2 linked regions of the Homo sapiens genome follow. The protein of the gene in region 1 binds, or shares a complex with, the protein of each later gene. Each region holds a gene or a part of one and is shown on either strand. Other genes may lie near its edges. The genes, in order: LIN7A and CASK.

Region 1 (16,226 bases):
TTTTTTCATTTCTGCCATAGCGAACATTGAAGAAAATTGTATGGAGGGCCATCCAGCCAATGAGTCAAGCTGTAGTGTGGTGTGAAGGCCTGTCTCCATGACCTGAGAATGAATCTCTTCTCTTCATATTAACATAGAATATCATTAGTTCATGTGGATAATTTTGTTTGACATTCTGTAATTATACCTTTTTAAAATTCATCATCATTTTTCTATAATAAGTTTTAATACACTGGCAAGAAGGACCTCCTGTCACCTTCCTGCTCAAAAAGCTTTAGACTGAATGAATCTTAAGCTCCTTAAGGTAACTCTCAGAGCCCCCTGTGGTATCTTTCTTTTCCCTTTTCTACCAGCTTCTTTCTACTTTTCACAGGTTTCCACTTTCCTTCATGTCTCCCATGTTCCAGACAAGTAGACTGTTTCAATAATAAAACACATACCATCATTTCCTGAGTGTACATTTAGACATTCTGTTTAGTTCAACTGAAATGTTTTTCAATCCTACCTCCACCTAAAAACTCTTCTGTTTTAAAAGATCCAGCATAAATACCACCATATTCATGAAGCTTTCCATGTTCCATGTAATACTGTGTTCATATCTCTTATATATGGTGGTGCTTACCATGTCCTACCCTGTTTTGCAGAGAATTGTGATAAATATTAAGTTCCTGTAGGGCAAGGGCCACATTTTATTTATTTTTTTCTTGTAAATCTCCATAGAACATAGTAGATAAAACATCTTGTACAAAGTGAGCAGTTAATAACTGTAGTTGAACTGATTTTCCATTGTAAAATGTATTTTAAATGGAGATTATTTGCTGGGCAGTATATTGTTCTCTTACTCATTCTTTTATTTATGTATTTATTTATATTTTGGGACAGGATCTTGCTCTATTGCCCAGGCTGGAGTGCAGTGGTGTGATCATGGCTCACTTCAGTCTTGACCTCCTGGGTTCAAGTGATCCTCCTGCCTCAAACCCCACCTGAAGGAGCTGGGACTACAGGCCGCACCACCATGCTGAGCTAATTTTTGTATTTTTTTTTTTTTTTGTAGAGTCGGGGATTCACCATGTTGTCCAGACTGTTCTTGAACTCCTGGGCTCAAACAATCCACCTGCTTTGGCCTCCCAAAGTGCTGGGATTACAGGCGTGAGCCACTGTGCTGGCCTTCTACTTCTTTTATTCACAAATATTTATTGGGTATCAGTAAAATGCCAAGCAATGAATATGCAGTGGCAAACAAACATTGTCCCTCTACTTGTGGAATTTACAATCTAGTGTAATAACACAGTGTAGTATAAAGGGCACTGGACTGGTTGAAACTTGGACTTCAGTCTCAGCCCTGTTCCTCACCAACTAGGAATAGTGGGGCAGTTGATATAATCTCTCTGGGTCTCATTTCATTTTCCACTGTTGGTTAAATTTGATACTCGTAATGAGTATCAAATTCCATTATGGCTCAAAAATGTTTTCATATTTTGTCTTGATTCTGGAGCAACATGTTCAGATGGATGCAACTTGTTCTATGATATATTTGTCAATATCAGGGCTGTCTTTCTTTCTTTTCTTTTCTTTTTTTTTTTTTTTTTGAGTTGCTTTCTCTCTGTGTGCACCAAAGACAGAATCAATGTATATGGGTGCATAGTAAGTAACATCAAATAGAAATAAAGAAGTAAAAATCAGCTTCAAATATTTTAGTAGGCCTAGAATCATGTACTAAACATTAATCATAAAACAATATAGAATTAGCAGTGTATTGCTTTAGAAAAATGATGGCCACATTGGAAAATCCTGAACAGGAAGTTTCCTGGAGTCATGAGGGTTTCCTCCATCCACGTTTACTCAGTCAGGCAGTCATGATGGGAAAGATCATCTGCTCCAAATCAGTTCAGTGCTCTATGGAGAAATTGAGGCCACTAAGCAATAGCCGAACTATAGAGTATTACGCATTACTTTGAAGACTATTAAAAGAAGTAATTCACAAAGCTACTCATAGAGTCCATATTTTGGCATTTAAGAGGATTGAGAATGGAAGAACCTATATGGCCAAGGCAGTATCCATCAACTCAGGTGAAGCAGATCCTTCAAAAACTGATTAAACCTGGACCTCGATCCACTTTTATTAACTCTCTCTCTCTCTCTCTCTCTCTATATATATACATTTTATTAACTCTCTCTATATATATAACTTCTATATATATAACATATATATACACATTATATGTATATAACTTATGTATATCACTTATATATACACATATATGTGTATATATGTAAGTTTTATATATATATACACACACACACACACACACACACACACACACACACACTTAAAAAAAGAAAAACAAAAAAAACCTCTATGCAATATTTATTTCAATACTCTGTACTCTTCTCAGACCTAGTTTGGTCTCAGTACATGGCTTTGTTTCTTATATCACTAAATCCAGGGTCTTTGTTCAGGTTGGCTCTTATTCTCTCAGCAGCGCTTGTGACACAGCGCCCATTTCTTTTGTATTCCCTTGCTGTGTATGTTATCAGTCTCTCTTAGTTTTCCTTCTACCTCTTGTTTCTCCTTTCCTGGATCCTTTTCCTTTATATGAACTTTAAATGTAGGATTTCATCAGGGTTTAGTGTGAGACACTCCCCATTCAGTAGTCTTTCTTTGTGTGGTTTCCTCCTCTCTAGTAATTTCAATTATAATTCAAATGGTTTCCAAGTTTATACCTCTAGTTCAGGACTTTTCTTAGCTACAGACTCATAGTTCATCAATTATGACATAACCATTTTGACATCTCAAAAGTGTCAAACTTTGATGTCAAACTTCATAAGTTGAAAACTAACTTTTCTTCCCAATTTTTCCTTCAATATTTCCTACCGCCATTTATCCATTCATTCATGTCAGAAGCCTAGGAGGCACTTTTTAATATTGTGTCTCCTTTACCACTTGCATACAATCTTACCAAAGGCCATGGGTGTTATCCTTCAAGCATTTCTGGGATCCATCCACTTCATTGAATTTCAATTCCATCTTTGTAGTCCAAACCACTGTACTTTCTTACCTGGATTGCTGAATAACCTCTTTAATGGTCACTTCTAATTTATACCTGCTCCCTGCACCCTGATCACTCTTCACATTGCATTCAGATATTAAAGAAAATACAAATCTCTTTATTTCACTTACTCTGCTATTTAAGACTACTCCCATAACTTCCCATTTCTCTTGGGATGAAATCCAAAATCCCTCATGTGGCTTTCAAGACCTGTTATTTTTACCTTAGCTTGGCAGACTCTCTGGTTCTGCTTCCTTAAGCCACATTGACCTTTCTCTCTGCTTTTTGAAAGGGCCAAGTGCTTTCATGCCTAAGGTACCCCATAGGGTACCTGATCTTGGAATGGTCTCTACAACCCTCACCTTTGCTTGGTTAACATCTAATACTCATTCTTCACATTATACCGTAAGTGTTACTGCTCTGGAGATATCCTTTCTGAATCCCAGATCGGTTTATGTACCAGTTACAGGCTTTCTCATTGCACGATGTACTTTCCTCAATTGCATTTATATTATTGAGGAATAATTCCTACAAATACCAATAATTCCAGTTGGGTATTGGTGGTTTTGAAAACCGCTCAATGTTTAGTGCTTAGCACAGCATGTGGCACTTAGTATCAACTAGACATGAAATTATAGAATAAATGAACCAATCTCTCTCTCTCTCTCTATTTCTCCTGAAGCAAATGTCTTTCATAACCACTCCAACATTTTTTCCTAAGCTTTAAAAAAGCACCAGTAAGATTTCTGGAGTCTTTAGAAGATGGTGCAGGAAGTAAGGAGTGTTGGAGGAAAGAAAGAAAGGAGCTTATGATGGTGGTCACTGTCCACCATGATTTCCTAAATATACACACCCACCCATTCTGCTCCTGGGAGGCCTTCACTTGTTTTCTCCAAAGACAATAAAAGCAAGCATTGTAGCTGCTACTGACTTATGTAAGGCATAATGTTTTCAGTTCGGTTATTGTTCTACATCCATCTTTTTTGTATTTTCTCTTTATTACATGATTATTTGTGATGATGTATGCCAGCAACTTATTTGCAGAATTCACAACTGACTTCAGTATAGAAGTTCAAGAATGAATGTTTTTGAATGCACATACATATACACACACACACCCCTAAAGGAGAAAACAAAAAGAAATTAAAATTAAAATACTATTAGTCTTCGGAGACAGAAGTTTATCATGATGTTTCCTACATAACTACAAATTTGACGATGATTGTAGTTGCAGTATAGAAGATTTTCATGATGGTTCCCATATAACTACAAACTCGACACTGATTGTAGTTGTAATAAAGATAAGGCCAGTAGAGAGCACTATATGCACTAGCTTTTAAAATAGTCTTTGCATTACTAACTACTAATAAAATTTAATGAAAGAATAGTATTTATTGTTTTAAGTTGTACTTAGCTTTTTGATTCAGTTAATAAATCAACATGTCATTTTATTTGAAAATGAAAGTACTTAAACATCTCTGTGTTTTCATTGTGTTCCTATACTATTTCATTTAATGGAAATAAAATGTTCAATAAAACAAATATCTAAAAGTGGCTCTACTGTACAGCATAATGACTACAGTTAGTAATCTATGTATTCTTGACATAAGAGAGTGGATGTAAAGTGTTCTCATCACTATAATAATAATATGATGAGTTAATACATATGTTAATTAGCTAGACATGTCATTCTGTGATGTATATACTTAAAAACATCATGTGGTACATGATAAATACATACTTTTTTTTCCTAGTTGGAGTCTTGGTCTGTCACCACCAGGCTGGAGTGCAGTGGCGCGATCTCGGCTCACTGCAACCTCCGACTCCCCTGTTCAAGCAATTCTCCTGCCTCAGCCTCCTGAGTAGCTGGGATTGCAGGTGTGCACCACCAGGCCCAGCTAATTTTTGTATTTTTAGTAGAGACGGGGTTTCACCATGTTGGCCAGGATGGTCTGTATCTCCTTACCTTGTGATCCGCCCGCCTTGGCCTCCCAAAATGCTGGGATTACAGGCGTGAGTCACTGCAAAAAGCGGTACTTTTAGGCTTTTAATTTTTATCTTCCTTCAGACATATATACCATTTGTTTCTTAGTAGAAAATTATTGTCATGATCTCTTGACTTACTGAATAGTCAGCTGGATAGTGCATGATACCACGTATTTCAAATGGAAAAATTGTCATCAGTCTATGGTGACTAGTTTTTTGCTTTTAATCACTTTAGGTTTTATAAATTCAATTAAATATGACATTTTTATAAATAAGTGGTAACAAATGGCATATGAAAGAATGCATGCAATGAAGCAGGAATAAATCCATCGCAGGTATTATAATCTGGAAGCACAAAATTGAAAATGGCCACATTAGCACTGGATTATTCAAAATGACAAGGTCATAATTGAGTGGAGTTCATGTTTATAAAGATGCTATAAACAAGACTGATTTTCATTCATAGCCCTGTTTGAGATAGCAAAAGCCTAGAAACAACCGGAGAGTACACCTATGACAGGCTATTTTAATGAAATGTTATGAAGTAGTTAAGAAGAATTATATAGATCTATATGTATTGATATGAAAATATCACTAAAATAAAATAAATAAATATGCAAAATATAGTGCACAGTAGAATTCTACTTGGAATTTTAAAAAGATATGTGCACATGTAATATATGTTATATATATTTCATACAATATATGGTATTAAATATACAAAAAAAATCCTTCTTAACATTGATGACTTGTGATTGAGTGGGTTTCTGCAGTACCTTTTGAATTGTTTGACATGTGCATTGTCTTATGTTTAAAATTCCAAAACAAAAACTCTTGTAAAGGAAAGAATATATAAGATATATAAAAGAGTTAATAGTTTGTTTGCTTATCTTACCTTGATAAAGATGGCAGAGATTTGCTTGCTGTCTCTACTTTTTGGGGATTTCTTTGATTTGAGGTCTAAATAAAAATATTCAGGTTGGTTTACCACAATTAATCTATGCAATATTCTGGGTGACAGGAGCCTTGAGATACTAACATAGAGTTAAAACCATCTTCAATTGCCTCGTTTGCTCCCATTCTAGTTAAATCCCTAAAAGACTACAATAAAGTCACAACTGGATTTATTATGTGAGTAAATGCTTAAAGCAATAAGCAAAATTAAGAAAACTTTAGAAGAGGAAACTTCTCAGAGATACTGCATTTCAGGAAGTGGATCTGCCTTGTGTAATGGCATAGACTCAGGAATGGTATAAGGAGATTACAGGGTCAGAAAGGCCCACCTGAGGGGCAAGAGTGTAAGAGTTCCTCCAGGACCAGAAAAGCCAGGAAACCACAGAAGTTGAGAGTAAGGAACTCAGTTTTAGAGGAGCATAATTTGATCCTCCTAATTAGTTTTGAGAAAAGGGCACTCTATGTTTTAGGCTGGGCCCAGAAAGATGATATTTAAATATAAACTAACTAAAATTATAGCATTTTTTGCTCCAAATTAGAGCATTGGAGGATAAAACTAAAGAGAGTTTGGAATTCTCTACTGAATGTGCTGTCCATGCTAATTGTGCATTTAGCTCTTAAACTTGCTAATTACTGACATGTATGTTTCCCAGCACACTTAGAGTAAATTCTGTTACTAGCCCCAATTACTGTTCAGTGTAAGAATGTGAAGAATTTGAAGATGGCCTGTTCATCTGTTTCTTCCTAATATCTTTCATTAATTCCATACTACCAAAATTAGAGATAAATTTTGCTGGTGGAAGGAGTAAGTTAAGCTATATTTAAAGGGATAGAAGTCAGATATTGAGGTGCTCCTCAAGAGAAAGCCATTTTAACCATGTTTTAAATAAAGCCAGCGTCCCAAACAAACAAGTCCTAGCTATCATTAATGTCCTTTCCAAGTATCAGGTGGCAGTGTTGTCCCTTCACCATGGTAAGATTCCCCAGCCACACTGAGACTCTATTATATTCATTTTGCCCCTCCTCTTTCTTTAGTTTTTTATGAAATTCCTTAGATTCCTTTTATTTTATAAAAATAAAAATGAAATAAAACACATACAGGAATGCAAAAAAAAAAAAAAAAAAGAAGAAGAAGAAGAAGAAGTTCCTGGTCTACTTAGCAATCCTCTGATTCAAAGTTGCAAAGAGTAGCTCTCTCTGCTCAAAGGTAAAACATTCTCCTATCTACATGCAAGAAAGTAAATATTTCTAAGTTTCTTCTGGAAGTCAACATAAATTGCTTCCAGAAAGTCATCACAATCCACACTTACCTTTTTTATTTCTGTATCCCTTTAACACATATAAATTTATAGTATTGTTTATTATTGATATATCATTTTGTAATTAATTTTATGCTTTTATTTTCCAATTGTTTTGTAAACTCCATAAAAATATGAATGTCTCCTACTTCTAACTCCATCTCTAGTCCTGTGTCCTAGTCAGTACATACACATCAAGTGCAGTGCAGATTTGTTATTTTAAAAAATGTTCTATTAAGTACAATGTGACTTTTTCCCTGACCACTCTAAAGTAACCTCTTTCCCTGCTGTATATTTCATCACAACATCCTATTTTATTGTCATCATATACTTTGTGGTATGCTGGTAAATGTTTAACAAGTGGCTCTCTAGAGGGAGAAAAAAAAATTGGAATAGAGTATTTACCAATCCCAATGGTTTAAATACTGCCACCATGGTCAATCAAAAGATACCAATGTGATATAACTGAAAGTGATGTTGAGACAAAATGCACATTATTGGGTCTCACATACAGTGTGAATAGGCTTCAACACATCAATGTTCATGATAATCAATATCTAAGATTATCTGATTGAATGGCTAATTTGTATTTTATCTGTCTCTCTTCATCAAAACTAAGTTCCAGGCACAGAATAGTGCCTAGCATATTGCAGGTGCTTAATTTGTTGGACAAAAGCGTAACTTTTTACTCACTGTTAAATATATTTAAAATGTTTAGATGACAATGGTAATAAACATGTTTTTTAAATTGTTAAAGTTTGTGAGTTCTAATAGTTTAGAAATATCATCTCCTGAGCAAATGTGAGAAGAGACTGCTTTACTTTTAAAAATTAGTTTGTTTAATATTTCTTGTATTTCTAGACATTCGCGAGAGATGTAAATATGAATTTGGGATGAATAAAGAAAAACAAAAAACTAAGCTTTGAATTTAAATTTCATTATTGAAAGATCAGTCATAACTTCTAACTGTGAAAACAGAGAAGTGTTATTTCTTTCGGAGAAAATAAAAAATAATAATAATTAGAATTTCCTTTTTTTTTTTTTTTTTGAGATAGTTTTGCTTTTTTTTTGCCCAGGCTGGAGTGCAATGGCGTGATCTCAGATCACCTCAACCTCTGCCTCCTGGGTTCAAGCCATTCTCCTGCCTCAGCCTCCCGAGTAGCTGGGATTACAGGCATGCACCACCATGCCTGGCTAATTTTGTATTTTTAGTAGAGACGGGGTTTCTCCATGTTGGTTAGGCTGGTCTCGAACTCCCGACCTCAGGTGATCCACCCGCCTTGGCCTCCCCAAGTGCTGGGGTTACAGGCATGAGCCACCGCGCCCACTCTTAGAATTTACTTTTAATATTTTAATTTCATCCGAAATATTTTAACATCTAACTCTGAATTAGTAACTCTTCATTCTGAAGTTAGTAATTTTTAATGCAGATGCTATGATACAAATATTTTTCTTAGCATAGATTGTATTCATACATTTTATTGTATGGTTGGCACAAAGAAATTAATGAAAGGTTCATTGTATTTCTGTTCATTAATTATATTACCTTCCACCACCTAACTCTCAATAGCTCTATTTAGGCTTGTTTTTTTTTTAATTATACTCCAAAATGAACTGCCGATTTTACCCAAATACACACTGTGCCTGCTTCCTCATCCCTGGCTTTTCTCTCCTGCTCCCTATAAGGCCATTCTCCCTATCCCTGTCTTTTGTAATTCTGACATTATTCTAGATCTAGTTTAGTCATCAATTTATTCATTCTTTGCACAATACTTAGTCACTAATTGCTCTCTTTCTTGTTTGTTTATTGACTTTCTCTTCCTTAGAGAATACAAGCCAAGTGAGAACAGGAAATTTTTCTTCTTCACTGCAATACCCCAATGCCTAGTACAGTGCTTGGCATATAGTCAGTATATTAAGTGTTTGTTGAATGAACAGACAAATAAGTAGTTATCAAAAAAAAAAGATAAACTAAATATAGTAAGATATTCTATGATGGTTTTAAAAAATAAACATTTAAATTTCAAAGTATTGGTTGGCACTTCATCTTAATCTAGTGCTGTTTTGACAAAGCTGTATGAATTAAGAAAGATAACATGTTATCTTGAATCAGTCAAAAACAATTTCTAACACCCAGGCTGAAAGAACTCCAGTTTGAAGGTGCTATTTTCTCATATGAAACTGTGCTCATTATACTTCATTTATAATCTAACTAAACACATTTCCTTGGTATGCTAATGCTCTATGCAAACCTTCTCTAGATTTTGTCATATAATTTTTAAAAATTCAATTAAGTGAAACCGACCTTAACATAGCTTTGAATGATTTTGTTAAGAACAGATTTTATATATCAAATAGGCAGTTGTTTAAATATTAACCTATATGTATATATAATGGAACCAGTATCATAGTTCTTTTGTCCTTTGACCTAACTTCCCTTCATCCATTCCTCTCTCTATGTCTCAAGCCAACACACACACAAAATAAAAGAGAGAGAGAAAAGACATGTGTGTGTGTATATATACATATAATATATCATATATATGTATTAAATATATTTCACATGTATTAAATACATTAATATTATATTAAAATATATTTATAATATATATTTATATCTCTTAAAAATATATATCTTAATAGATATATATTTATATATCTCTTAAAAGATTTTATAACCATATATATACTTATCTGGAATTCTGAAATAAAAGGCTGAAATCACTAAATCTTCAACAACATAGAATAAAGTGTGATGAGGCCCAGCGTGGTGGTTCATGCCTGTAATCCCAGCACTTTGGGAGGCTGAGGAGACGGATCACTTGAGGTCAGGAGTTCGAGGCCAGCCTGACCATAATGGTGAAGCCCCGCCTCCATAAAAAACACAAAAATTAGCTAGGCATGGTGGCGGGCGCCTGTAGGCCCAACTATTTGGGAGGCTGAGTCAGGAGAATCGCTTGAACCCCGCGGGCGAAGGTTGCAGTGAGCAGAAATCGCGCCACTGCACTGCAGCCTGTGCGACAGAGTGAGACTCCATCTCAAAAAAAAAAAAAAAAAAAAAAAAAGAACAAAGTGTGATGTTTCTTAGTGGAAAGCACAGGAGATTGTGAAGCCAGGTGCTACTATTCTTAAGCAAGTTGTGTAACCTCTGTGAGCTTCAGTTTACTTATCTTCAAAACGGCATAAAAATACCTACTTCTCTGGGCTGGAAAGAAAGGGAAAGAGAGACCAACTTAGCACCAAGTCTGGCACATATAAGTGCTCAATAAGTATTTATTGAATTAGTTAACTCCATGAAAATATAGTTACCATTAAACTAAATTTCTACATATCATTTAATGAAAGAGTGTAGTGATTTTGTAACCAAATAGCTAAGATAAAAGCATAATTACAAATATTTTAACAATTCTCAGGTAAATACACAGCAAAGCAACTGGCATGTGACTAGATCAAGTATATCCCTGCATGTCTCAAAACGAAATTCACAAATATTATTGGAGAGATAGTATTTATTCATAAAAACAAATTCTAATGGATAATGAATTTTTATTAATTTTCTACACCTGTGTAGACATAAGCTAAAGGGAATGAACTTTCCACTACTAAAAATAATAACAGATGAATTTATGGTGATTTATGCTTCCTTTTAATTTCTCTTTTAATCTTGATTTAAAAACAACAACAACCCTACAGAGTCAACACAGAGAAAGAATGACAGAGCAAATTTCAAATAGGAAGCTCAAGGCAGAAGTCCAGAAATATGCTATGAAATGTTTAGTCCTGAGGATGCATTAGGAAACAAAAAGACAAAGAAAACTCTACCTTCACTGACACCACAATCAGGGATTTGTGTTGGAATGGGTACAATTTATGACTTTTGGGCTGATGAATCAAGCTGCTTAAATACATATTCCCTAATAAAGGATGTTGTAAAATAACTACATTAGAAGTCAAGGGATTTGTATGTTCTTTTATCCTCAGTTACCGAGTGAGGTTTAATAACTTTGTGCAAAAGCTTGTAACACACTCTGGTATCATTGCGCTCATCTCAACTTCTTTCTGTTGCTTAATTCAGGGCATGTGAATAACGGTAAAAAACCAAAGTTGTTTTTGCAACCTCTGGCCACCGAGGGCACTTCCTTTTAATAGTGCTTAGAGTACTGCACAGAAGCTTATGGTTTGCTCACTGTCTCCCAAGCAAGACTGGGCAGAAAGGGGGCCATCTCATTAATCTTTGCATGGTTAGCACCTAGCACAGAGCTTACCACACGGTTCCAGGGGATGTATGCTTGTATAAATAAATTTGTATATTCTTTACTGTTTTCAAAGCACAGTCACATGTATGACTCCATTAGACCCTCATAAAACTCTGTGAGATTGCAAGGTAGAATTAGTTTCCTCATATGACAGATCTCTGTGACATTGAATGATATTATTTCCATTGTATGACAGAGGAGGAAACAGGATCAGTGAGAGATTGTGTGACTTCCGAAGAGTACATGACTAAGACTCAAATGTCAAGATCAGCATTCTTTCTTAAATACTAAATAAAAATAAACATATCGAACTACTATTTTAGGTTTGTTCTTAGGGTCTGTTAAGTCTATATATGGCCAATCATCTTTGGCTTTCCCACATTGGTGAAATGTTGTTTTTTAAAATTCAATTGTAGACTATAAAATGAAAAAGACCTTCAGAAATCCTATCTGTAATCAGAAGAAAATGGCATCAATTATATGCAAATATTTTGCTATAAAACAGTATCTGCCTTTTAGAGTTTATTGTTAGCCCAAACAATTCAGCTCTGTCACAGGAAACAAGATGGAGGCAGCTTTGTCATTTCCAATCCTGCACCCACAGTCACCCCTATTCAGCTTATAGAAGGTTTCTTTATGTTTCTTGATTTCGTAGTCAGGAAATGAATCCCTACTATGACAAGATAGTGAAAGTAGCCTTTTTATTGGGGCGAAGAGGTCACAGCCAGTATTTGAAGGCTCTCGTAATTTAATCCTGATCAACTGACTCTAAAGTCAGGTTTTTAATAACACCATCTCCCACTAGATTACAGGCTACAGGAAGTCGGAGACTAAATTGAACTCCTAAATCAAGGCGTGGCACAAGGCAATGTAACTCTTCTATCTCAATTCCTGGCATATATGTTAATCAATCGATAAGTGGCATCTCTGAACCACTGGTTAGAAATCAACATGAAAAGTGCTAGGTACATATTTTTCAAACGTAGTCATAGACAACCAAAATCAGTTTGGACATTAAGAGCAAAGTTTTTGTTGCTGGGTGGGTGAGGGGGAGTGGGGCATGTTTACAGGATGTGGTATGTAAAAAATTCGGAGAAAATCTGAACACTGTACTTGTTTCTAAGCTACATTTACTGAATTGGTAATGTATTAACAGTGGCTTGAAAAAGAAAAACTTAGCGATAGAAACTTACCTACACGTTTTTTATTTTGAAGCACTTTTAAGAGGTTTGCCTTTTTTTTTTTTTTTCTCCAGGCAATATACTCAGGTCCTAAATGAACATCTACTGATGGAACGCTGGCCTTTAGTCAGTTATCTTTATATGCCGTTATAGGTCAACATTCCGAAAAACTTCAACAGAAATTAACTGCAAATGTAATTACATCCCAAACATTTCTGATAATGGAAGCATTTTCTCTCTAAAGGGGATGGGATTATTGGATTGGCAATTTCTCTTAATCTGAGAAAACTCATCTCCCACTCCCTTCCCCATATCCCCTTTCCATCCTCTCTCTTCCCCTTATACACACACGCACCCGCATGCACACACGTATATTCTGACCATTTTATTAGAGTGGAAAGTTGAAAGGAAGCAACCCGCCAGCTACACCCACCCAGCGCTCCTGGGGGTGGAATAGCAAAGTTCTAGGGCAGAGCCTTCCCTCCCAGAGCCCGGCGATGCAGTCGCTCTCGGATACCTGCTCAGCTCCGCACCGCAACTGAAGATCTGCCGCCGCGGAACAGTTGCGTCTCCATCTGGCTACCAACCCACCCAAGCTTTCTTCTCCACCACCACCACCTTCCTTCCTTCCCCCTCCTCCCCCTCCTTTCCGTCTTCCCTCTCCACCCCCGCCCCCAATCTCCTCCTTTTTTTCTCACTACGAGCGGTTGCTGATGCTGAAGCCGAGCGTCACTTCGGCTCCCACGGCAGACATGGCGACATTGACAGTGGTCCAGCCGCTCACCCTGGACAGAGGTAAGGGAGCGGCTCGCTCGCCAGGCCACCGCGTCCCCTCTCCCCTCCTCCCTTCCCCGCCTGCCAATTCCCAACGGGACATGGGACGCGCTCAGGCAGGAGGAGAAGGGGAACGAGGACGAGCCAGGAAGGCGTTCGCGCCGAGAACAGAACACTTTCTTCCCCTTTCTCTCCCCGCTACGTTCCCGCTGCCCCTTCCCACTGTACTCGCCCCGCCGAGGGGACGCCTCCTTCTGGCTCTGGGGTCCCCGCTGCCACTCCCAGCCCCTCGCCGGGTCGTCTCCGGTCCTCTGGCTTTGTTGGAGCCGCTGCGCGGGGACGGCTATAGGCGCCAGGGGCTCGGGGTTGGAGAGGGGCAGAGAGCAAGCTCGCCCGGCCAGAGCCCAGAGGAGACCGGCGAGGGAGCCGCCTGTCAGCTTGCTTGGCGCAGGGGCCCGGGAGGAAGGAAGTTTGTCCAGGCGCCGGAGGGCGAGGGTCGGTCCAACTGCTGGAGTCCCGGCGGCCACTCGGGGGGCGGGCTGGGCGCACCCCTGGGCTGCCGGGCGCACAGTGGCGGGGCTGCAGCAGGCAGGGAGCTGCCCTCTGCCGAAAGGGCAAGGCAGAGCGCGGGGAGCCGAGCCCCAGCAGCCGAGATCGGCTCTCCGCGGCTTCGAGATCGAAAGCGGCGAGGGTCGCGTCTGCTCCCGCCGCCGGCAGCTCCCGGTCGATAGCAACTCTCGGCTTCTCCCGCGCCAGCCTCTCGTGTCCTCTCCCAGCTCGGTGCCACCGCGGCGCCCAGGCTGCGGAAGGCGCGGGGACAAAGCGCAGGTCGGGTTAAAATTCAACTTCTGACCTGCCACCCAGTGAGTCCTGCTCTCTGACTTGAACGGGGAAAGTGTTCGCTTCCTCCCCAGGACGCCCTCACAAGCTCAGGGATGGAGTCCTCCGCTGCGATCGGGGCCTCACTGGTGCACCCCTGTGGGGTTATACCTGTCCCTGAGTGTGTGGGTTTCCTTCCTGGCTCCAGCGTCCAGTGATGAAGGCGCTCGAGTCCTACGGCTCTGCAGAGGAGGACACCCTCTAGTCCCTCTCCGCAGCCGCCGGATTTAGGACCCTGGGCGGCCATTTGGAAATGGTGTACTCAGAAGAAAATGATTTAGTCCGATGTACCTCTAAAAATTTTCTTTCTAGAGGATTAAACTGAACGATGGGCAAGGCAAAAGAACATCCTGCTGAGAGTACAGTAACAAAGCCAGTGAACTCAGTTTGAGGTTTTTAATTTGGAGAGACTGTGGGTGACTTTAACGCAATCTGTTGGCGCCAGAACAGATGTTCTGTGGTGCCCATAGCAACCTTTCTTAGGGTAAGAGTTGAAAAATAAAATGTAATTGATTTTATATTAGAAAATGTTGATTTGTAAGCTGGCAAAATTAATAACAGTAGTTAAAGACCTCAGAAATCCATTGTATAATCCATGATTTTACCCACAATATCATCATCTGCACTAAGCAGGATAAATCCATTGCCGGTAAGAACCAAACAGATGGCAAGCTATCAGAAACTATGAGCTTCCCAAGTATTTATGTTTTAATGTAATGAGCTCTTATATTGTCCCATTACAAAATCACAGTCGTTAAACATCCCAAATCAAGTGACTATGTTAGGAGCAAAAACTCCAAGAAGATTGCATACCTGGGTCATTTTATATACTACCACTACTACTAATAATACAAATATTTCAATGTTGGGTTTTACCTTAGCCCTTAGATGCCTCAGTCGGTTGATGAGAGGAGGTGCTAATCGGACTAAGATTTATTTTTAAAGTTTGCTCTTGTTCACAGCCAAACTCTACTTGTCCTTCTGAGTGTAATTACGTACATGCAGTAGCTCAGGAGACAAGCAGGTTTACCCTGTGGATGAGTCTGAAAAAATTCATCAGCAGCTCATGGAAAATCTATAACCAAGAGATGATGGGTTATTGGCATCACCACTGAGCATAAAGTCAATATATATAAATATTGTTCTCCGTATCTTATTCAAATATGATTAATTACTTTCATTATTAAACTGATGAAGGAAAAGGTTCTAAAAATTTCCCTTCAAAAAAGGTGCATTTTTAAAGAGGCAACCCAGTATTACATATCTGGGTCCTAGCTGCAACTCTGATACTCACTCTGCATACATCAGCCTCTCTGGACATCAGATTCTCTCTGTGCCACATCAGGAGTTTGAATTAGATGATTCTAACACTGTGCAGCTTTAGCAGTCTATAATTCAATTAATTAGAGTTAGGACTCAGTTTTTGGTCACCTACTGGGAGATTTTCCAGATCACCTCTCTCCCAGGCTGCTTTGGTACCCTTTGATGCGCTCTAAATTGACTTGCTGCTTTGGCCCCATTAAAGCATTTATCACACTCTGTTGCATTTGTCTATCCCTATTGGATAGAACTCCGTGAGGGAAGAGACCATTTCTAAATTCATCTTTGAATTCTCAGTGTCTGCTATAGTCCCTGACTCACAGTACAATAAAAAAATAATGTTAAGTTGGTGTAAGTAAACTCAGGATAGCAGTAACTTAAGCAATGTTAAAATATAGTGATTTCCTAGTGAACTGAGGTGCATTTCATAGATTCACAGTATTTTAACCATGGAAAGGATGATAGTGATAACATAGGCCAGAGATTCTCAACCTAGCTTTCCCCTATACACTTGATGGATTGCCGTCA
Region 2 (15,486 bases), on another chromosome or scaffold:
AATCATAAACCCTGCTAGTGGTTTTTGAAGCTCAGGACTATATATTCAAATAGAATCCCGTGTGCCAGAGAGTGATGTTGTAGGAATTGTTCCTTTTCATCCTGGTAGGAAGCACTCCTGTCTTTGGGTGAATGCACATTTGCTAAAATGGCGTTTTTTGCATTGTGTTGATTATGAAGTAAAGCCACAGTGAAAATACTATGCTTTTTAAGTGCAAGCCGAACTAGAAGGTGATGATTAACTGGGGTCTTATCTACACTGTAGTACTTAACACTAACATTCAAAGCATGCCCTGTCCTGCTTTGAAATGCCAGTAAAAGAGGACAAAACAGGTAGGACATTCTTGGTTCAGAGTGCCCTGAGAGAAAAGATTGAGTTCCTGTCTGCTGTGGTGTCTGCGCATGCCCACTGCAGTGCCAGGACAGAATCAAGCAAGTCTCTTTATCTCACTTCTAGTCCCCTTTCTTGAGAGCTGTACCCAGAGAGCTGAGGCTTGCCTGGACCTCCCAGCAGCCTCCCAGGAAAGGTCTCTTGCCAATAACAGAGGGGCTTTAGAGAAGAGGAGAGGAGGGGAGGGGCCCTAAGCCAGTACTGGGTACTACGGCTCCTAGGTCCTTGAAGGTACCGCATCTTTTATTTTCTCTGGAGATCTGTCTCTGTCACCCAGGGCCCCAATTTCCTGGAAGAATTGCTCAGTCTCTTGATTTTAGATTTAATACTTGTAAAACCCTATAATGACTGGCACTAGTCAGACAAGTGCTTGTTCTTTTGACAGCATTTATTAAGCACTTACTATGTGTAAGGCACTATGCCTAATGCTGGGGCACAGCAATTACAGGGCACACAAGACAAGTTTATGCCCTAGCTGGAGACATAGCCACTAATCAAATAAAGAGGTATTTCGTTATCTCTATGTATATTTAAGACTCAGCCCAAGAGCTCACCCACCTAGTGTTTGGCAGGTAGGGGGTGGTTAATTTGACTCACAAAGTTCCCTAGTGTCAAGGTTGAACTTGCCCTTTGGGAGTTCAGCATGACAAATATGACTTGCGAAGATATAGAGGCAGACTTCTTTCTGGTGGCTCTTAAGAGACCCCTGTCTTGAAAGAACTGCCACTCTGTAGCAGAAGCTATACTTGCATGACAAAGCTGGGACCCTAAACTCCCTCCTCCTGTTGGATCCCTCTTACAAGAGTTCTTAAAATCTGTGGCAAGCTGCAGCTTAGGGAACATCCTTTGTTGCAGCAAACCTCCCTAGAGTTCAGTACTCCCTAGAGTTCTCTTCCTTCTGTTTTTTTCATAAGAGATATGAGGACCTACGAACAGTGACATTTGTCTAGCCACTTCTAATGCAGACCAATTTGGGGGGATTCATCAGATGCCAGGTGCTGTTTATTGGGGAAACAGCCTTATTCCAGCCATTATTTGTAACACTCAAAGATCTTTTGCCTCTGGCATCAGCTGCTATTGAGTGAGGGCCATTATATGTAATTGAATTCCTAGAACGTGTGGCACCTTTAAGTAGAAGAGGAAAAAATACAACTTAATTTGTCATCCAAGGGCAGGGACTTGTTGGTGCAAACACAGCTGGGCCCTGAGGCCTGGCTCCAGTGAGTGTGGAGGACCAAGGGGACGGGGGCAAAGAGCTCCAGCCTTGCCACCGTAGCCCTCTCGCCAATTGGGAGAGTGGCTTGAGGCTAGGGCGGGGGGCTTCCTGCTGGCCTGTTTGGGCCACCATAGCCACTGTAACCCACACCTGGCATGGCCCTACCAAGCCTGACTCTGGGGACAGGCACAGCTAGGCCTGAGTGGGGGTGGCATGTTTCCTGAAGAGTATCTGTTTTCTCTGGTTCGTCTGCTTTGTCATGGACCCTCTGTTGCATGTTGAGCAATCACTGTCTCCTCTGTCATGGAGCGGACTTGGCCTCATGCTGGCATATGGCATATCAGGGTCTGGCCTTGACTGTTTCTGACACTGGGATGAACAAAAATGTGAAAAGAGAACGAATCCAACTGATTTCTCTCTTCTGTTTGCTTTTCCCTCCTCTCATGCCCACCCCTACCTCCATCTCATCACCATTTAGGATGAATCTCTTCAGCGTCTGCAGAAGGAGTCTGACATCTTACAGAGAACATATGCACACTACTTCGATCTCACAATTATCAACAATGAAATTGATGAGACAATCAGACATCTGGAGGAAGCTGTTGAGCTCGTGTGCACAGCCCCACAGTGGGTCCCTGTCTCCTGGGTCTATTAGGCCTCTCCCCAGATATCTGAGCATAACTGGGAGCACCTCATTTGTGGAAAAGCCTCTTTGTTATCGGCCTTGTGTCAGCAGGTCATGGTCCCTAGAGACTACCTAGTTGTAGTGTGACCTACATTTATAATTATTGTCATGTCCGAATAGATAGGAGGAGAAAAACAATTACACACTAATTTAAAGAGACAGTATCTTTTTTAATCAGTTCTCCTAAACTTTAATAAAATGTATCTTTAAATGTATGTATTATTCAATCCTTTGGAATGTTATATTTTTGGAAATCATAGCTTTTTATTTCCAAGGCCCCTAAAAACTGCACAAAATAGATGCTGCTTTCTATAATCTATTTTAATAATAATAAACAATGATTCTGTTACCTTGACTGGGGGTGGAACACTACATTCTTTTTAGAGTCTGATTTTATGGATTGGAATATTGGGATATCTTTCTTTCCTTTATTTATTTGAAATAATTAGTGTAGTGATTACAAAACAGTCATAAATTTTTAAAGGCCTTTTTTCTCTCTTTTTTTTTTTTTAGAATAGTATTTTTTTTTAAGTCCTTTATGTAACATCCAGATAATGTGATACTGTCTCTTTGAAGCACCCTGTAAACCTTTTAGAGATTTGAAGTTGGGTCTTGACTCTTAATGCATGTGGACAGTCGCGAGCGTTTATGCTGTCGGTGTGTCTGTGTTGGACAAAACAATCTGTAATCTACAGCAAAGTACATTCTACATTCCGTTCATGGGGCACACCCAGGGGAATAAGAATAAAATGCTATTATGACTAAGTTGTAAACCTATGCACATCCCTTGCATTTTGGGCAACTTTATAAAAAAAAAGAAACTGATTTTTATTAATAATAATCATGTAGTGAAATGTGTTTGTAATTTTGTCTCAATTTAATTTGTTGTAAGGTGGGGTGGGGGGAATTGCTGGTTTCACCATTTCAGATCTGTGTTGTCTAAGAGTATTAACGTTTTAATTAAGCAAAGAAATGATTTTTAATCTGTATGTAATTGTTTTAAAGCACCCATTTTAAGAGAAAATACTGTGCAATGAAGAAACCAGTTTAGGCATTTGCTATAAACTGAAATATTCCAAAAGAATCATCTATAACAGCCCTGTAAATTCCTTTAAAATGATAACTAACAGGACAGTTTGACCAATTTTTTTTAAATATACTTCCTTTTATGTGTTCAATAATTAAATGCCTTTGGGTCCTTCATTTCATTATAGATTTGTTCAGGCTTCCAAGCTGATAATCTTTACAATTGTATAATTTGTTAGATGCTCATTGAACCTTTGAAGGCCCAGGAGTGAGTATCAGTTGGCAGGGTGACAAAGTAGCCTGCCAGAGCACAGCTGGACCACGTCTGACTCGCACAGAGCCATGCGCCCAAGGGCCACGGGTGTACTGGAGGCCACCTGTGGTCTCTCCTTCCTCTTGCTGTATCCCTTGGCACAGGGGAATCATCTGTCCTTGTTGCTTTAGAGACATTAACCATCTCATAACTCTTCCATGAAGTCACATTCTTCCAATACAGGAGATTCGGGCTGGGGTTCTCAGACTCTTTGCCAGAGGTCAGTAGAATGTTTTTCATTAGCATGTGAGGGTGTGAAGTGCTTATATTAACCTGTGATCCTTGAAAACATACCATCATTTTTTGCTTCTTGTAGGTTAGATGGCCTTGTCACTTTGTGCCTTGGCAGGATGTGCAGGGTGTGTTCTGAGCTGAACAGCTCCTCTTAAAGGACCAAACAGAGAAGGCATTAGTATACTTCTTTTACATTGTCAACACCATACCCGCCTCCGCCCCCCACCGCCTATTATTAAATGGTGGCGATTTTTTTTTTTCTGATGTTGTTCTTTGCCAGTGACCAGATGAGTCTGCAACTTACTAACAAGGTATTGAGTGAACTACTTCTGTATGGGCCCCACAGTGGGGTGACCAAGCCACCAAACCAGAGATAAGCTCAACAGTGGTCTCACACTAGATAGAGAGAGAAACCTTCAAAGAGTTGGGTAGGGCTGTGTTAGAACTGATTCGAATCTGATAGATGCCAAGGCCAGACAGTCGTTCCTGGTATGGTACTGACCACAATTTCGGGCTCTTAGTGTGAAGGTGCGCACTCTACCTCTTTTCTGGTGAAGCACAAAGACAACTACAACTAACACATGGGAAACAGAAACTTCCCTCCCTCTAGTGGAAACCCCCACGCCCCCACTTGCCCTTTGAGCCCACATCTCCAGAGATGCTGATGATGCCTGTCTTAAGCCATCTGCCATATTTATAAAGGTGGATTAAGCAGAGGAGGAGAAAAGCAATGCCAACTTAAATGTCTGTGGCCCCACAATTCACAAGCACTGTAGCACTCATCCTCAGTGGCTTTATACGTCCTCTGAGAAGCACACAGGCAGGCATCATTCTTGCCATCATTCCGATGGTGAAATCCCTGCATGCAGAACTCATTGACTTCTCAAAGATGTTACCTGTTCCATTCCACTAATACATGTCTTCTCTAAAGCAGTGTCTTTATGACCTAGCTGCATATACTTACATTTCTGAATTCAGAGTAATTTCAGTACATTGCTGCTGCTGCTGCTGCTGCTGCTGCTGCTGCTGCTGCTGCTGCTGCTGCTACTGCTACATTACAATTGTCCACTAAGCAATCAGAGAAAATTGCTAAAAGCTTCTTTACTGCTTCCATTCCATCAGCAGAACCTTTTTTTTTCTTTCTTTCTTTTAAAGACCAGAATGAATGTTTAGAGTACTAAATCTTATTAGTGGTCAATTGAAGTATTGGAGAGCCACATTTTGAAGGTTCTCTCCCCCACCCAACTCCATTCCCCACAGCAAGAAAGGGAGTGTTTTTATATGTTGAATTCTTTGTTAAAAAGATGAAATGTCCTGATTTTCCAGTCACAAGACAGTAATTACTTTGCACATACAGCATATCCCATTTTAATGCTAAAAAGGGAAATGTCACTCAATTTAATTCATCTGGAAGTTTCCCAGTGTCAAGATAACATTGTAGCCTTTTTAAATGCAATTAAATGTATCTCTTGTCAGGTGAGATGATTTAAAATCTTTGCTCAGAGAGGAAAACAAATGGTTGACCTACTTCTTGCTATTTGCATTCAGAAGGCATCGTCCCAGCCCATCCTATTGGTGGCAGAATATCTAAAGATGTCGCAAAGTCCCCCACTGCAGTAGAAATGCAGGAGGTGTTCCTGTTCCCCGTCCAATTCCTTCTTAGGCTGCTAGAGACAGCCAGTGGGCCAAGCCTTCCCCTGTGCTCCAGGCAGGCCTGGGCTGCAGCTACTGTTACCTTTTTACAGCCTTTGATCTGATCGCTGCAGAGTTCTTTTGTTTTTAAATCACTTGTATTTGTCTCTTCATTAAGGCTTCAAGTTTATTTCTTGAAAAAGTTTAGTCAATTGAACCACCCTCCAGGAAGATTCCCAGCGTGGAAACTGCCCCTGAAAAACAAGGCAGCCCAAAGCCAGCTCTCTTTTGTCCCCCACTGATGTCATGTCCTTTTTTTTTTTCATTTCAGGCCAGTTTCTTAACTTGGGGCAAAGAGAATGTGTTGCTAAAGCTACCAAGAAAACTGCTTGATTAACAAATTCTTAATAGAAATGCCTCCCACACTGTCTCTTTGAAAAGAGAAGGCACCTTGGAATCGGCATTCCAAAACCAAGCTCCTTGTCATCCTCATCCCTCCTCCTTCTTGCTTCCTATTATCAAACTCGTGTGTGTTTCTTGTTTTCTCAGAACTGAACACAGCCTCCTAATTCCATCCTCTTGACTAGGGCTTACAATACTGAGAGCGATTACAGGCTGTAATAAGTTAAAGGTCCCTGAGCGTGGCTTTCTTGTTCTGCGCCTCTAATTAATTCTTCTATTAAAAGATGCTTTCCTTCTCACTGCAGCTTACAGAAAGGCTACAAGCTTTAATCACAGATCATTTCATTTGCCAGAGCCTTTCCTTTTCTAACTCCTTTAGAAATAAGATTTCCCTCTCTGTTTGGAATCTCTGGATACAGGACTCTCCTCCAAGCTCATGGCTTGATTGGCTTTGCCTGTGCACACACACATCAGTTTGCCTTAAACTTGGAGCTATGGGGAGTCCCAGATTTTCCAGCTTAGTGGGTGAAGTTTAGCTGTCACCTACATCCAGGAAGTGGGGGAAAAGGGAAAAAAAGAGGATATTCACCACCATGTTCCCATCCGGTCTTTCCCCTGCCTTGCTTTGTGCAGCAGGTGGGCAGACAGAGCCCACAGAAACAGAAGTAGAAAGAGGGCCGCACCATCTCTGGGGCCAGCACTCCTAAGTCTTAGCTCTTTGTGGGAATAGAAAATCCTGAGCTCCCACCACCTCTCGTCTGACCCTCCATCAACTCCCTCGAACCTGTGCAAATGGACTGAGCAAAAGAAAATGGAAAGAGATGTTTGTCACCACACAGGAGACCTCCTTTCTGGCCCCAAGCACAACTCCATCTCTGCGTATGCTCAGAAACTCAGAATTTAGCTGCTACTTATGTGTTAGCTCCATTCTCTCTGGTGTGTGACTGAGAGAACACGCCAGTGTTCTTACTGACAGAGGCTTAGGGGTGACCCTCTCTGGACCCAGAGGAAGTACAACCTCTGTAGCGAGAATTGTCCTTGGGAACAGAAACAGGCATTCCTCCACAGTGAGTGGCTCCCCCTATTTTTTTTTTATTTGGAAGAGACCAAGAATTGGGGGAATTGATTTCCAGTCTTAGCTGTTTCCCGGAATGTCATCTGTGCAGGCAGGTAGGCGGCTGCCGGGTGCAGCAGGCAGCGTGACTGATGTGAAGGCCGCCCAATCCTCACGTGCTAAGACCCGAGTATCGTGTTTAATTGCAGTGTAGGCACGTCGCCATTCAAACTCAGTTCTGGGGTGGTTTTGCATAAAGTTTTGCCAACGTGTTCTTTTTTCTGTATGTATTATTGCCTTTTTATAAAAGGTGTTGAAGTATTGTCTCAGTGATAAAAAGAGAGAGATGTTAATGGTTGTTGTATATTTCACCGTATCCAATTGTAAGTATTTGCAGGGTACAGCAGAGCCTTAGCTTGCAAGAGCGTTTGTGCAGGAGGTGTCCCTCAACACCCAGGAGCTGAAGGGATTGGAAAGGTTTGGATTCTTTGTAAATGTCCTGCTTTTCTTTCTCTCTGTGTGTATCTATTTACATGCCTTAGCACACGCCCTCCCATCCTGATCCCTTTGCCCTGTCGCCGGAACAACCAGAATGCTGGTGCGCTGCCGGCACAGTACAAGTTGATGAAACCCTAATCAGTTATCTTGTGTGACAGGGGAAGAAGAGAAACTCCATAGTATTCCTTGTAGAATATACATACCTGTAGGATGCTGTGTAATGGGAAACCATAGAATTGGGCTTTTGTCATTTCAAAGTTGGAGAAATGTATGAATAAAATGTATAAAACATGAAAAGGCAGTTGTCTCCTCAGATTGCAGGCCAAACAGCTTGGGGACAAACAACAGAGGGTTAAAAGAAGAGGGATGGCCTGATTTCTAAAGGCCTCTGCAGAGTTCATCCACACAGTTAGGCCTCAGACACCTTCCCACAATGGTTGGGGTGGGGTGGGGGTGTTGCAGAGGGACAGCTCCTGGCCCTGTAAAGGAGCACGACCCAGGCTCCTGGTGCCCATCCTGCAGGTTTCAGTCTTCAGCCATGGCTGTTAACAGACGGCATCCTGCAAGCAGTTCCAGCTCAGTTGCTTGCATTTGGATGCAGGCTTAAAATAGCTTCATCTTAAAAAAAAAAGAAAAAAGAAAAAGTCTAAGTTGTGACATCTCCTAGAAATAGAAGTCTAAATTGATTTCGGTGGTGTAGGTGCCACAGCATGGAAAATGTGGCCCTTGGTTGACATTTGCATCAAGAGCCGTGGGAGGACGCCTGCTCCAGGACTGCCGCTCCGCCCAGTGCCTTTGTGATTTCATGGTTTGATTTGGTCTCTGGCTGGAGTCTGGGACATGCTTCCTGGCGTGCCTCACTAACCTGGTTTACACACGATTCCTTCCCTGCCCTTGCCCTACGCTTTGCCCAAGCAAGGAACCATGGTGGCTTCAGAGACAACACTTGTATGTGTCACACACACCCTAGAAAGAGCCCAGGCCTGAATGAGCTTACCTGGCTCACTTTCAGAAGACACATACGAAGGAAACATAAACTACCAGTGATTATTTGCTTTACTCAAATAAATATCACGCTACAAAAATTGTATAGAAGAGTTTAGGCCACATTCAGACCCAAAATTTGAGCCCCTGGCCTTTTAGTTCAGAAAATCCTGTTACCTTTGTACAGACTTCTTACCCTAGATATACAGAGGACGGAAAGCAAAATGCTACCATTAAGCTCATTTTTTGAACTTCATGGTATTTAAAACACATCCAACATGGTAATATTAAGCTGGTCGAAAAATATAAACATGTCTTTTCTGTGTTTTTGCCCAATTTGCTATAACATGATAAACTGAAGAAATAACACTAGGGATCATTCCATGAACCGCTATGAACAGCACATCATGCAGAAAGAATGCAATGAGATTGGTGCAGGGTAATAGACAGAGTTCAAGGTCACTGAAGGTTGCAAGTCCCATGAAAGGTCAGTGTTGTAGTGCAAGTAAGCCACCCAGCCACTAAAGGAAGGGATGCTCTGGGAGAGAATGTTCCAGAAAGTGGTATGTGACTTTAACAACAAGTGAGCACACACACAAGGCATGGGGCCTGCAGATAAAATCCCATGGCTGTGGCACTGTCGGAAATACTGCACCCACCACACGTATTCCCTAATCTCCTCACCCATCATTACCTTTGAAGCCAGGTGCAGTGGCTGTCTCCTGTAATCCCAGCACTTTGGGAGGCCAAGGCGGGTGGATCACTTGAGGTCAGGAGTTCGAGACCAGCCTGGCCAACATGGTGAAACCCCGTCTCTACTAAAAATACAAACATTAGCTGGGCGTGGTGGCGCGTGCCTGTAATCCCAACCACTCAGGAGGCTGAAGCAGGAGAATCCCTTGAACCCGGGAGGCAGAGGTTGCAGTGAGCCGAGATTGTGCCACTGCACTCCAGCCTGGGTGACAGAGCAAGACTCCATCTCAAAAAAAAATTAAAAAATAAACCTTTCAGGCGGTGGTGCCCAGAAATGTTTTTGCCATAGATGCATTCTTAGGCAGGATCTTGAAAAGCTTCAATCTACTGCTGTTGCCCTCTTCGCTCCTCCAAAGGCAGCTTTATAACCCTCCCCCCATGGCCACTTGCCCTGCAGAGAATCTGGCTCCTTTCTGCCACCAGAATGGTCTGATGAACAACTTGAGAGTGACAGAGGGGGCAGCCTGCTGGGACCTCAAAAGTGGCTTCAGGCCGGGCACAGTGGCTCATGCCTGTAATCCCAGCACTTTGGAAGGCCAAGGCGGGCGGATCACCTGCGGTCAGGAGTTTGAGACCAGCCTGGCTAACATGGAGAAACCCTGTCTCTACTAAAAATGCAAAATTAGCCGGGTGTGGTGGCACATGCCTGTGATCCCAGCTACTCAGGAGGCTGAGGCAGGGGAATCGCTTGAACCCGGGAGGCGGAGGTTGCAGTGAGCGGAGATTGCACCACTGCACTCCAGCCTGGGTGACAAGAGGGAAACTCAGTCTCAAAAAAAAAAAAAAAAAAAAAAAAAGTGGCTTCGGGCCTGCAGGATGTTAAACTGAGGCCGGAGATGGGGAAATGGAGACCATGTACAAAGCAGGTGGCAGCAGCTTAGCCACACAGATCAACAGCTTACCACAGAATTTCCCTCAGAACTTTCTGGGGGTGGTGGAAATGTTCATTTCTTGTTTTCAGTGGTGGTTGCATGGGTGTATACAATGGTCAAAACACATCAGACTGAACACCTAGGATCTGTGCATTCTATTTTCTGTAAAATATGTCTCAGTTACAAAAAAGAAACAAGGAAAACCATGATCATCTTTGCAGCTGCCAAAAAAAAATCACTTCACAAAATTCAACACCCAGTTCTAATTTAAAAACAAACAAAAAACCCTTAAAAATAAGATAGGAAATATTCTTAGCATATACAGAATAACTGTTTCAACCCACAGCCAACATAATCCACCTAGAAGTGACAGAACAAAAGCAGTAAAATTGCCATTATTTAAAAATTAAATAACACGTGATCATCATAGAATGATTAGAAAATATGGATAAACAAACAAAAAAAAGGGAGATTCAACCACATTCTGCTATGCAGAGCCAACTGCTATAAACATATCTATGTATATCTGTCAGGCTAGCAGGCTAGTATAAATTTATGTATGTGTGTGTGTGTGTGTGTGTGTGTGTGTGTGTGTGTATATATATATGTTTTGCTTTTTGGTTTTTTTTTTCATTTTTGAGACAGGTTCTCACTCTGTTGCCCAGGCTGGAGTGCAGTAGCATAATCACAGCTCACTGTAGCCTCAACCTCCTGGACTTAAGTGACCCTCCCACCCCAGCCTCCCCAGTAGCTGGGACTACAGGCCTGTGCCACCACACCCAGCTAATTTTTGTATTTTTTGTAGAGATGGGGTTTCACCATGTCACCCAGGCTGGTCTCAAACTCCTGGGCTCAAGTAGTCTTCCCACCTGGGCCCCCCAAAGTGCTGGGATTACAGATGTGAGCCACACCTGGCCCTATACATATTTTTAATACAGTAAGAAAGTCATACTAAACACACTGTTCTATTACATAACATATCTTCCTCCATCATAATTATTTACTATTGCTTTTATTTATTTATCTTTTTAGGGTCCCACTCTGTCACCGAGTCTGCAGTGCAGTGGTGTGATCACAGCTCACTACAGCCTCAAACTCGGGCTCAAGGCATCCTCCCACCTCATCACCCCATGTAGCTGGGACTACAGGCACCACCATGCCCGGCTAATTTTTGTATTTTGTTATTATAGAGACGAGGTTTTGCCATGTTGCCCAGGCTGGTCTCAAACTCCTGGGCTCAAGCGATCTGCCAGTCTCAGACTCCCAAAATGCTACTATTGCTTTTAAAGCATTTCTCAACAACAGAACAGAGTATAACCATTGGAAAAGACACAAAATTGTCCATATTTGCTAATAATATCATTGTATACCTTGAAACACAAAAAAGGACAACCAGACAACAAGTAGCTGAGTTACAAAGCAGCTACTCGGGAGGCTGAGACAGAAAAATCACTTGAGCCCAGGAGGTGGAGGTTTCAGTGAGCTGAGATTGCGCCATTGCACTCCAGCCTGGGTGACAGAGCAAGACCCTGTCTCAAAAAATAAATAATAAATAAATAATAAAGAGCAGATACAAAAACACCCAGAAATCAATAGCATTCTTGTATATTCACAGTAAAGTTAGAAAATTAAATGGGGAAAGGATGCCATTCTCAAATGCAACAAGTGTTTTCAAACTAACAAATCCATGGGATCGATATGAGAAAAGGGCAAAGCTGCACTGAGAATATAAAAGATGCAAATAAACAGAGACATGTTTTTGGATGAAAGAATTAAATGTTTTAATGGCATCAGTTCTTTCCAAATTAATGTAGGCTTAATATAATACCAAATCAAATGCCACACAATGATTTTTCTGGGCCTTTATAAAATGACTGTTCATTGGCCGGGTGCGGTGGCTCACACCTGTAATCCCAGCACGTTGGGAGGCCGAGGCAGGCAGATCACGAGGTCAGGAGTTCGAGACCAGCCTGGCCAACGTGGTGAAACCCCATCTCTACTTAAAAAAAATACAAAAATAAGCCGGGTGTGGTGGGGCACACCTGTAATTCCAGCTGCTCAGGAGGCTGAGACAGGAGAATTGCTTGAACCCAGGTGGGGGAGGTTGCAGTTAGCCGAGATTGCACCACTGCACTCCAGCCTGGGTGACAGAGCAAGACTCGGTCTCAAAAAAAAAAAAAAAAAAAATTATATATATATATATATATATATATATATATATATATATATATATGTATACCAAAATTAGTTTCAGCCCAATTAAAGAGTTAAATATTAAAATTCAGTGCTAGAAAATGAAAACAAATAGAATGAGTAGTCAGTAAAACTCTGGAAGAGGGTAACTTTTTAACCTTATGCCGGAGAAAAAAGTCAGAAAGCAATTGAAAGATTTGACCCCATGAAACCATTACAGCATTTTTTTCTTTTCTTTTTTTTTGAGATGGAGTTTTGCTCTTGTTGCCCAGGCTGGAGTGCAGTGGCGTGATCTCGGCTCACTGCAACCTCCACCTTGTGGTTTCATGCAATTCTCCCACCTCAGCCTCCAGAGTAGCTGGGATTACAGGTGCCCACCATCACACCCGGCTAATTTTTGTATTTTTGTATTTTTAGTAGAGACGGGGTTTCACTATGTTGGCTAGGAATCTGATCTCAAACTCCTGACCTGGTGATCCGCCCACCTCGGCCTCCCAAAATGCTGGGATTACAGGCATAAGCCACCACGCCCGGCCAAAACCATTACAGCTTTGATATGAAAACTTGTAGACCACAAACAGAAAAGAAAGGCATTTTACAGCAAATATAATACACAAAGAGTTAATATATTTATTATGCAATGAAGACATAAAGTGGTTAAAAATGCTAACATTCCAACAAATGAACAAAGGACATGATGAACATTGCACAGACTATACAGAGAGCTACTATTAAAAACATTGAAAAATATCTCAATGATCAAGAAAATGTAAGTGACACAGTGGCTCGCGCCTGTAATTCTAGTACTTTGGGCAGCTGAGGCAGGTGAATTGCTTGAGCCCAGGAGTTCGAGACCAGCCTGGGCAACATGTCAAAACCCCATCTCTACAAAAAGTACAAAAATTAGCCAGGCGTGGTGGCATGCGCCTGTAGTCCCAGCTACTCAGAAGGCTGAGGCGGGAGGATCACCTGAACCCGGGAAGTGGAGGTTGCAGTGAGCTGAGATCCTGCCACTGCACTCCAGCCTGGGTGACAGAATGAGACTCCGTCTCAAAATAAATAAGTAAATTTAAAAAAAATTAAAATAATAAAGGCAAACAGTACATGGTGGCACACACCTGTGGTCCCAGCTACTCAGAAGGCTGAGGCAGGAGGATCACTTGAGCCCAGGAGGTCGAGGCTGTAGAGAGCCATGATTGCGCCACTGCACTCCAGCCTGGGTGACAACAAAACCCTGTCTCTAAATAAATAAATAAAAATAAAGGCAATCAAGCTGGGTGTGGTGGCTCACGCCTGTAATCCCAGCTAGACAGGAGGATCACTTGAGGCCAGGAGTTTGAGACCAGCCTGGGCGACATAGCAAACCCTGATTAAAAAATTTTTGTAAAAAGGCAATCAGTACCATTGACTGAGCCGTCACTCTGATGTTCCGGTCACTGAGTGCTTTGCATGCCTCAGCGTACCTCCACCCTGAGTCCTCTGACCTGAGGGCTCTTAACCATAAATATTACTAAATATCCCCAAATTTAAACAGTGCTTTATGATAGGATAATCAATGAAGTTTTTCTTTATTTTACAAGTCTACTTGTAATATTTTATTTATTTATTATTATTATTTATTTATTTATTTTGAAACAGAGTCTGACTCTGTCACCCAGGCTGGAGTGCAGTGGTGTGATCTCAGCTCACTGCAACCTCCGCCTCCTGGGTTCAAGTGATTCTCCTGCCTCAGCCTCCCGAGTAGCTGGGATTACAGGCGCCTGTCACTACGCCTGGCTAATTTTTGTATTTTTGGTAGAGGTGGGGTTTTGCAATGTTGGCCAGGCCGATATTGAATTCCTGGACTCAGGTGATCTGCCCGCCTTGGCCTCCCAAAGGGCTGGGATTACAGACCTGAGCCACCGTGCCCAGCCTCTGTACAGTTTTTAAAGTGAATCAACCTGAGCACTTCTTTTATGGCTGCCTGATGGGAGCGTAGCAGAGAGCATGGCCTGGGAATGGCTGACGCCAGCCACTCTCCGGGTCCGCTTTCACCATGTCACTAGGCCTGGCTGCCACCATCAGGAGCCTGGGAACATTTCTGCTTCCCTGCGAGGACACCCTTCTCTAGCCAGCCAGACCTGAGAACTGGGGGCTCACAGAGTGGCAAAGAGGAAAAGGGACGAAGTCAAAGGACACCTCATAGCAAGACATGAAATTCAGTCCGAATAATTTATTCATCCCAATAAGTGCTTTGGATTTCTGCCTAAGAACTCAAGCTGGCAATTTTCAGCTAAGTGAGCTACACAGCTTGTTCATCTAAACAAACTGCAGTGGCAGAGTTGTACTAGGCTGAAAAGCATAAACATCTTAAGGGCAGAGTTGTCCAATCAGAGAACAAAATATATTAGTGAGCTTAAGTGAAGTAGTGAACACAGTGTGCAGGGCCCTAGGAACAGAATAGAGATCCCAGAAACAGAGCCTGGGCGGATGAAAAACTGAAGATGACAAAGATGGGACTTCAGGCCGGGCACGGTGGCTCACGCCTGTAATCCCAGCACTTTGAGAGGCCAAGGCAGGCAGATCACCTGAAGTCAGGAGTTTGAGACCAGCCTGGCCAACGTGGTGAAACCCCGTCTCTACTAAAAACACAAAAAATTAGCTGGGCGTGGTGGTACACGCCTGTAATCCCAGCTACTCGGGAGGCCGAGACAGGAGAATCGCTTGAACCCAGGAGGCTGAGGTTGCATTGAGCTGAGATCGCATTATTGCACTCCAGAGCGAGAATTCATCTCAAAAAAAGAAAAGAAAAAGATGGGACTTCAGTGTAGTGGTGAAATCATGAACTCTTCAAGAATTATTCATATGGAAAAAATAAAATTAGATCCCTACCTCATGATACATAAAAAATAAAATTTTAGATGGCTGAAAGGTCTGTGAAAATCTTAAAATATTACATACACATACACACATACACATATACACACACATATTGGGCTATATATATATACATATATACATATACACATATATACATATATATACACATATATACATATATACACATATATATACATATATATACATATATACACACATATACATATATACATATATACACACATATACATATATACATATATACACACATATATATACATATATACATATATACACACATATATACATATATACACACATATATACACACATATATACATATATAATATATATACATATATACACATATATACA

What was found.
Region 2: LIN7A (region 1) and CASK share a complex: the UniProt entries of both Homo sapiens proteins name them as parts of the brain-specific heterotrimeric complex.

The regions. Positions count from the first base shown.
Region 1 is NC_000012.12:80,934,935-80,951,160, reverse strand, and holds the start of LIN7A (protein lin-7 homolog A), read left to right. Parts: upstream 1-13,226; 5' UTR 13,227-13,438; coding exon 13,439-13,520; intron 13,521-15,327; exon of another isoform or gene 15,328-15,425; intron 15,426-16,226. UniProt on the Homo sapiens protein: Plays a role in establishing and maintaining the asymmetric distribution of channels and receptors at the plasma membrane of polarized cells.
Region 2 is NC_000023.11:41,507,195-41,522,680, reverse strand, and holds the end of CASK (peripheral plasma membrane protein CASK), read left to right. Parts: intron 1-344; exon of another isoform or gene 345-528; intron 529-2,084; coding exon 2,085-2,261; 3' UTR 2,262-7,747; downstream 7,748-15,486. UniProt on the Homo sapiens protein: Multidomain scaffolding Mg(2+)-independent protein kinase that catalyzes the phosphotransfer from ATP to proteins such as NRXN1, and plays a role in synaptic transmembrane protein anchoring and ion channel trafficking.